Regions from separate parts of the Homo sapiens genome. Here all the other regions are linked to region 1. The links come from fine-mapping of genetic effects on gene expression. A gene starts in region 1. Each other region holds a variant in brackets. All regions are shown on one strand. Distances are from middle to middle. Region 1 holds the start of TMEM245 (transmembrane protein 245). Region 2 overlaps TMEM245 (transmembrane protein 245). Region 3 overlaps TMEM245 (transmembrane protein 245).

Region 1 (2,768 bases):
TCTTGTTAATTGGAATCTGCAAGTGGTGAGCGACTAAACCTGCGTTTTGGTTATAAAACTCCAAAGGCCATCTGAAATACTGAGACCTAAAACTTACAATCGAGATGGATAGGGAATTACTTTTTCCTTTACTTCCTTTACTAAATCCCTTTGTCTCCAAATCTATCAAGCAATAGTTTCTTTATCTGCAAACTGTGGATTATGTTACCTGTCTTGTCTGCTTTAGAAGGGAAACAAAAATTATGTAGAAATTAATAGGAATACTATTGAAACAGGAAAGGGACAACTTGCAAGGTTTGAAGCAATCACATGTTGAGTACTCAGTCAAGGCTTTCTTTTTTTTTTTAAATCAAAATGTTGATTGGGATATTTTATGGGTAGCAGGCTTGGATCCCAGCACTTTTCCAATAGGGGAACAGAAGCACCTTGTACCGCCCCAGAGTTTCCCTTCCCCCACACAATAACCCTAAAGCAAAAGCTATTATTATTATCATCGCCATGTGACAGAGGAAAACTTGAGATTGGGGGCTTAACTGACATTACATCAAGTCTCAAAAAGAAACAGTGGCAGTTTGAGACTTTGATCTACGACTCTTTTAAGAGTTTAGATTGCGTCCACAGCGAAACCTGCACAAACAGTTGTCAACAGCGGCTGCAAATTACAGGCTTATGAGGAACGTTTGAAAAATGCCAAGAGTTCTTTCCTCAGGCCAAATACTATGGTAGATAAAAGTATAGCCTTTGGAGCCAGAATCCCTGAGTTTGAATCTTGCCTGTGCCACTTGGTAGCTGTGTGACTCTGGCTGCGTACTTAACGGCTCTGTCTCAGTTTTTCTGTTGGTAAAATGAGGATAATAACACCTTCTTTGTAGGGTTGTTCTAAGGATTAAATGAGTTAATAGGAGTGAGCCACTTAGAATAGGGCCTGTTATATGGTAATCTCTATTTAAAATCCTGTCAGATACACCAAAGAAAACACTTTAAAAATATCTGTTAAATAAATCAGTAAAACAGAATCGGGGCATTGGTTCTTTAAAAGTACTCCCCCACGGTATTCTAGTATGCAGCTTGGGTTTTAATATCTGAATGTGGCGCCTTTTGGGATCTCGCCTCGCGAGAAATTGACATTAACGAATGAGTGAAAGGAGCTTCCCCCCCCCCCCCCCTCCAGGAAGATATAGACCCTGCAAACTTGTTAGCAGGACCTTGCGGACACCAAGGAGGCGGAGGCGTTTTCCCCATTTCCCCTTCGGGAGTTGTAGTTTCCTGCAAGCGCTTGGTGGGTCTGTAAACCAGCGGGGAACTACAACTCCCACAATCTCGCGCGCCTCCCGCCCTGCCTCCCGCCCGCGTTTCTAGCCCGACTCCCATTACCGCCCCTCGGGGGCGGCTGTGGCGGAGGAACGATGGCCGACGGCGGCGGCCCTAAGGACGCGCCAAGCCTGCGGAGCTCTCCCGGGCCGGCGCCGCGGGTCCCGCGCGCGGTCGGGCCGAGTGGCGGTGGCGGGGAGACCCCGCGGACCGCGGCGCTGGCGCTGCGCTTCGACAAGCCCATTAAGCAGGCCTTCTACAACACCGGGGCCGTGCTGTTCGTGTGCCTGTGCTGCGGCGCCGCGGTGCTGGTCTACTTCATCCTGGAGGCCTTCCTGCGGCCGCTGCTCTGGGCCGTGCTATGCGGCACTTTTCTGCACCCCTTCAAGAGCTCGCTGACGCGCCTGGGCCGCCACTGGCTGCAGCGCCTGCACCGCGCGCACACGCCCATCGTCCTGGCCGCGCTGCTCCTGCCGCTCTGCTTCGTCGACTACGGCGTCGAGGCCCTGGGCGAGCAGGCGCTGCGCCGCCGCCGCCTGCTCCTGCTGCTCGGCGCCGGCGGCCCGCTCCTGTACGGCCTCTACTGCCTCGGCAGCTACTTGGGCGTGCAGGTGCTGCTGGTGCACGCTGCCACGCTCATCTGCCGCGGGCTGGACTACTTCAGCAGCCTGTGGGTGAGTGAGCGGCAGTCCGCCCCCGTCCCCCGCCCGTGGTCCCGGCGCTCTGGGGTGCAATCCTGCAGCTGTTCCTCCCGGTGCAGGGGCGACGAGGGGCCACACCTGTGCTGCAGTGACCGTCCGTCTCCGCTTTCCTTCTCACACCTCAGGAATTTGGCGGACATTCTTCCAAAAAGGGGGCGGGCGTGATTTGAAACAGCCTCCCTGCTTTTCGCCTTGTTTCAATCCTAATAGGCCCTCTTAGGGGGACAGTGCCCTGGATTGAGAATCGTTATTTCGCTTTGCAGAGAGAGGCCTCAGAGCATGGCAGTGGGGCTTGGTTTTACTTCTGGTTGGAGAGGGCGGGGGTGCTTCGGCCACCCTCAGTTCTGCGCATCTGAATGTCAGAGCTGGAAGGGACCTTAGAGATTCTAGGCCAACTTGCCATCCTGCAGATAGGAAAGGTGACCTCTTACCAGGCTAGGGCTACTTAGGGACAAAGAGGGGTTTGGGTGTCTTAGATTTCTTACAAGTCCTAAAACAAAGCTTGCTTCACTGGCTGGTGCTGCCTCTCAGTTCAGGTGATTCCTGTATAATTTGTGCAAGGCACTGGGTGCTGAGCTGCCTGTGCTTCTTCCTCTCCACGCTTTACTTTTAGGTAACTGCTTTTGTTGTGCAGGGACTGGTGTACCACAGCACACCTCCTCCCGCCTGGAGTAAAGCAGCTGACCGCGTGAAGGGGAGAGACGTAGATTTGTGATGCTTGGATTAACCTGAGCTTACTCTTACAAAACCAGGGAG
Region 2 (2,768 bases), 46 kb after region 1:
ACAGACTCAAGAAGAAATAGAAAAATTGTAGCCCACTATGAGGACAAGAAATTGAATTAGTGTTTGAAATTCTTCCTACCAAGAAGCGCTCAGGCCCAGATGATCTCACTGATGAGTTTTATCAAACATGTAGCGAAGAAATACTGCCTGTTCTACACAGTGTTGTTCAGTTAGCAAAGAAGTAACACTTGTCAGCTCATTTTATGAGGCTAGTATTGCCCAGATACCAAAGTCAAAGGCATTCACAGAAGGGAAACTGCAGACCAGTATCCCTTATAAATAGACACAAAAATCCTTAACAAAACATTAACAGATTAAATCCTGCAGTATGTAAAAAGGAAAATATATCTATGTGAGGTTTATTTCGGGAATGTAAAACCCGTTTAACATCCAACAGTTGGTTAATGTAAGATAGGTCTCAAATCCAGTCACTTCTTTCTCAGTACCGCTACTGTCCTGCTCAAAGCTATCCCCGTTCTCTCTTGAATTGTTCCTTAGCCTCATTTAGTCTGTTTTCAACACAGCGTCCAAACTTACTTTAAACATCTAAGTAAGATTATGTCCCTTAGCTTACAGCCCTCTCTTTTTCCATATCCCACAAAATGCTAGCCTAAGTCCTCACAAGAACGTGTCAGGCCTTATTCATTCTGGCTGTTTTTCAGGCATTGCACCTGAGTTGATTATCCCCTCATTGTGTCTGAAATCAGTTTGTTTTCCCCGTCTTGGTGCAGTTTGTATTTTGTGTTCTTCCTACTTTTCTGGGGCCCGATAGAATTGGAAGTGGTATCACTTGATGGCTTAGGTGGCTATGTATCTTTGTTAGGGTATCTAGACTCTGTTCTGTTCTGGGTTGGTATGTGACTTGCCCTAGTGATTTTGCTACTTGGTTAATCTCATACCCATGCCCATGGAAAAATACCGTCAGTCTTTGTACTGTCTCACTCAATTCCTGGCATACTATGGAACTTTCACTGCAGAAAGGGACAGAGATGAGGGGTGGGTGTGGGTGGGGGACTTTGATCTCTTTCCTCTGATTTATCCTTTTCTCCCTCATTACACTTTCTTTCCCTCTGTCATCAGAAAAGGATAACGATGTGGCTTCTTTTCTCCCTGTTACTCGTGAATCGTAATATATTTGTCAGCTCACCTGTGTAGCTCCTGGGTGATGGGGTCAGTTTAGGAGTGAGCTGTTACGCCTCTCTGTTGTGCTCCAGAATGTTTTGTTTCTTTACCTGATGGCTGAGTTCCAAATTGTATCAGATTATGTTTCTTTCCTTGTTTGGATGTCCTGGGTGAAAAAATTTTTTTTCAACTGATTAATTCCCATTTTATCTCCCTCAATTTGTTGGTTATTGGGCAAGGTAAATTCAGAGGTGCAGCTTCTGTTGGCTTTTTTTACTCAGAAACCTTACTTAGTTGCAGTTTACTTACAGTGGCTCACACCTGTAATCCTAGCACTTTGGGAGGCCAAGGTGGATAGATCCCTTGAGGTCAGGAGTTCAAGACCAGCCTGGCCAACATGGCAAAACCTTTTTTCTACTAAAAATACAAAATTAGACAGGCGTGGTTGTGAGTGCCTGTAATCCCAGCTACTCAGGAGACTGAGGCACGAGAATCGCTTGAACGTGGGGGGTGGAGGTTATATCGAGCTGAGATTGCGCCACTACACACCAGCAAGCCTGGGTGACAGAGCGAGAACCTGGCTAAAAAAAAAA[A/C]AAAAAAAACAAAAAAAAAAAGTTAGTTCCTTATTTGCCTGTTTGTCTCACACTGCGTGATGAACCTGTTAGCTCACAAAGTGCTGATATTGCTTACATAGATACACAAACACATTTATACGATATATTCATGCAAATGAAATGTATGTACATATACGTGTCAAGTATTTGAACATATCTATTTATGTATTTTTTTCTTAAGTAATGTGTTGAACAGGGAGCTAGCATGTACTTTTTATTTCCCGTAGTGCGTATCATTAGATATAATGTATAGTAACTTTGCGCTGCATGTTTCTAAATTAATTAAAGCAAAGATGTGTATTTATTTGGCTCTCAAAGCATTGTTCCAATAATAGAGTAGAAAAATAAATGTTAAATTGGGTTTATTTTTTACTGAGATTCTTTTCTTTCTTTATCTGTAATACAGGTACATCAAGAGAGTGTACACATGATTGAAGTCACAAGTAATTTGATTAATGAAACTCTAGCAAATCACCCTGAGTGGGCAAAGTAAGAATATTGTTTTGAAAAAGAAGAGAGATGAATGGCCTAGTTTCAGCATCTGTTTGCACGAAATGACCTTCATTGATGCAGCTGCATTGGAAGATAAAAGATAGGGTTTGCCAGAGCTTTGATAAATATTGTCATTTTTGAAGAAGAATGTCATGTAATACAGAGGGTGGGAGGAAAGTGCTCAGGATTTTAGGTACAATTCATGGTAAATGATACTTTGTTTTATAATTGAGGTTTACAGCATGTTTATAATTTACAAAGCACTTCATCTGTCTTATGTCATTTGTTCCTCACAGTGACTGTGTGAGATAGATTGAAGAAATTATCCCCATTTTACACATGAGGAAACAAGATCAAAGGTTAAGGAACTTGAGATAATAATTCCGCAGTGGCAGAGTCATTTATAACCACTGCTTCTGATCAACTGAAGGAAAGTTTCCACTATAACATGGAAACTGTAACTCCTCAACTTTCTATATAATTTTTAAATTTATGTTATTTATTTATTTTTAAGAAATGAGGTCTCACCATGTTGTCCAG
Region 3 (2,768 bases), 89 kb after region 1:
ACCAAATGCATTGCATGAGTCTGGGATAGATTTCTGGATTGGGGATGGGAGGAATATTTCTGAAACAATTGGGGAAATTTGAACATGGACCATATGTTAAATAATATATCAATGTTAAATTTGGTTTAACCAATTTAACAATGATACTTCGATAACCAATGATACAATGATAACCAGTCATAACCAATGATATTTTGGTTCTGTAGAAGAATGTCCTTTAAAGATGACGTGTCATGATGTCTGCCACTTATTTGCAAGCAGTTCCGCCAGAACTGGGAGAGGGAGAGAGGAAGTGACTGTAGCAAAATGTTAACAATTGTTGAATCTAGATGAAAGACATATGGTTGTTAATTGTACCGGCATTTCAATTTTGTGTAGGTTTATACATTTTTAAAATACAAAGTTGGGAAAAAATTATTTGGGACACCAATATAGAGTTGCAACATGTTATTTTGTAAGTACAGATATTAAAATAAAAAGTACTGTTATCTGCTGTCACCAGCATTTCATAAAATAAATTATAATGTTTGAAAATTTTTCTCAATTGTCTTATAATTTTCTTAAATTTCTTTAGGTATAATTTATATATGGTGAAATGTACATCTAAATAGCCAAATGTACCTCTAAATAGACAGGTTGATTTTTTCATGTACTCACACCCATGTAACCACTACTCATATCAAGGTATAGAATATTTTTGTTGTTCTGGAAGGCTTCTCCCTGCCTCCTCTCAGTCAGACCCCACTGCCTGCTGATACTCTAACCATAGTCACTTTTCATTAGTTTTGCCTGTTTTTGAACTTCATATAAAAGAAATCATATAGTAGGTAGGTACTCTTGAGTCAGTCCTCATTGCTCAACAGTGTATCTGTGTGATTCATTCATATTGTTGGATGTTTTTCTCTGTTCATGGTTCATTCTTGCATTGTTGTCTAATCTTCCATTACATGAATATATTACAATCTCATTTAATCATTGTAGGACTAATAGATATTTGGGTAGTTTGCAGTTTATGTCTGTTTTAATTCAAGATGCTATGAACTTTTTAAAAAAAATTTCTTATTTTGCCACGAACGTTTTTGTACATGTCTTTTGGTGGACATGCGCACAGTACTTACTGTAGTTGGACATATACCTAAAAGAGGAATGTCTGGTTATACATCTGGTTTTAAGTTTAGGTGGATACTTAAAAACAGTTTTCTATGTTATGTGCCAGAAATTACATTTTAACAACAAAAAAGAAGGACAGTCTCAGAATAAAAAGTAAAATGTTTTGAACTTTCCGGAAACTATATGGCATTCTCCTTGTTATCTGCAATTGGAAAACACTAGTTTTCCTGCCACTGGATATTCTC[G/A]TGTAATCAAGGAGTCACTGACAAGTTGGTTCTGACAATGCATTTAATGAAAATATTTTATACTTTTATGTAAAATTCTTTAACAACATGATTCTGCTTAATTTTGTTTTTAGTGTTATATTTTGTGAAGAGAGACATTGTCCTTTAACTCAGAACAAATGCAGTAAAGTCTCTGAGTTAGAGCTGGTTAGGGGGCCATTTTAGCCAATGCGTGATCCTTAGTTGATGGCAGGGGAAAATCAGTTTTTCCAAAAGAATAAAAGGAGAGGTGCTTCGGTGATTTTGACAAGGGCCTTCCCAATTTGGTGGTGGTGACACTATGATATCCTTTTCTGCCTTTGCCTCTTAAAGACAAGTGCTCAGATACCTGAGAAGCCAGCGGTGCTCGAAATCAACAGAATGCACTTGCTAACTTGAGGCTCTGTTCCATGGGCTCACCAAACACAAAGAAAAAAGATAATTGATCAATATTTTGCTGTTATTTTGAGAAAAACTTAATGATTTCAAGTTACTAAAGCAAGAGTTAGTATTTAAGGTGAAATGAAAGCAACTTAAATGAATTCTTTTAGAGGTAATAAACCTTTTTAACTCTTTGTCCTTCTAAAAGTACAAAATGCTTATGTGGCGTGGCAGAGTAGAAAAAGATAACGTGAGGACCCATATAGCCTTTGTCTTTCAAAGTTACTCATGCATGAGTTTAAAGAGTCAAATTTCTACAAAACTCAGTGAAAAATAAGGACAATAAGGACTTTGCCTTCTCCCTCTTCTTCCTTTTTCTAAGAGGAACCACTTTTTGACCCTGTATTATTTTGATATTTACCTCCATATCTTGAAGTGACGTATTTATTTCTGATTTGGTCATATATAGGCATCATCTAATAACTTCCGACTTGGAAGGTTAGAAGTTAGCTTTCACTACCCATTCCCCCAAAACAAACGGTGATACTGGTTAGATCAGTATTCAGGTTTTACATTATTATGACTTTAAATTATATTCATATTTGAGCCTTGTCATATATTCTAATATTTCTTTACCCATACGACTTTTGCTTTCTCTTGAATTAATAAAGATACTGGTTTTTATTTGCTTTGCTTTCCATGTACTTATAACTAATCCCATCTCAAGCTCTGCACCAGGCACTCACCTCTCCACTTGGTATGTTCAGTCGCACCAGGCATAGTTGGTCTTCTAAAGAAGACTGTCCTAAGTGCCCTGGTCTGCCCCAGTGGAGTGCTGTCCTTTTGGCTTGCTGTTCAGCGGTCACCTTGGGTATTCCCTCAACTCTCCCTTGCATTGGAATCCTTATTTCTTATACCCTATATAATTTTCTTTCTTGATTTCTTCCTTTTTGGTGGAGCACATCCTCTTATAGATTTTCGGGAAAATATGCATAGGAGGTAAATTTTGAGGGA

The links. PIP is the estimated chance that this variant, and not a neighbour inherited with it, causes the effect. A credible set is the group of variants that fine-mapping cannot tell apart.
Region 2: its variant is the best candidate, but not a certain one, in a credible set for the expression of TMEM245 in B cells (Schmiedel 2018, PIP 0.67).
Region 3: its variant is the best candidate, but not a certain one, in a credible set for the expression of TMEM245 in whole blood (TOPMed, PIP 0.64).

Annotation. Positions count from the first base shown.
Region 1 is chr9:109,118,552-109,121,319 of GRCh38, reverse strand. It overlaps TMEM245 (transmembrane protein 245), which reads left to right and starts at 1,373. Exons shown (of 18, transcript NM_032012.4): 1 at 1,373-1,985. The coding sequence starts at 1,407. RefSeq lists silencers at 1,224-1,273, 1,414-1,583, 1,934-2,043 and an enhancer at 1,694-1,743.
Region 2 is chr9:109,072,813-109,075,580 of GRCh38, reverse strand. TMEM245 (transmembrane protein 245) reads left to right here. Exons shown (of 18, transcript NM_032012.4): 9 at 2,143-2,225. Among named protein-coding and RNA genes, the nearest start is that of MIR32, 28 kb to the right of the region's middle. The variant A/C (reference allele first, on the strand shown) is at 1,716.
Region 3 is chr9:109,029,581-109,032,348 of GRCh38, reverse strand. The region is part of intron 17 of TMEM245 (transmembrane protein 245); the gene reads left to right. Among named protein-coding and RNA genes, the nearest start is that of MIR32, 15 kb to the left of the region's middle. The variant G/A (reference allele first, on the strand shown) is at 1,356.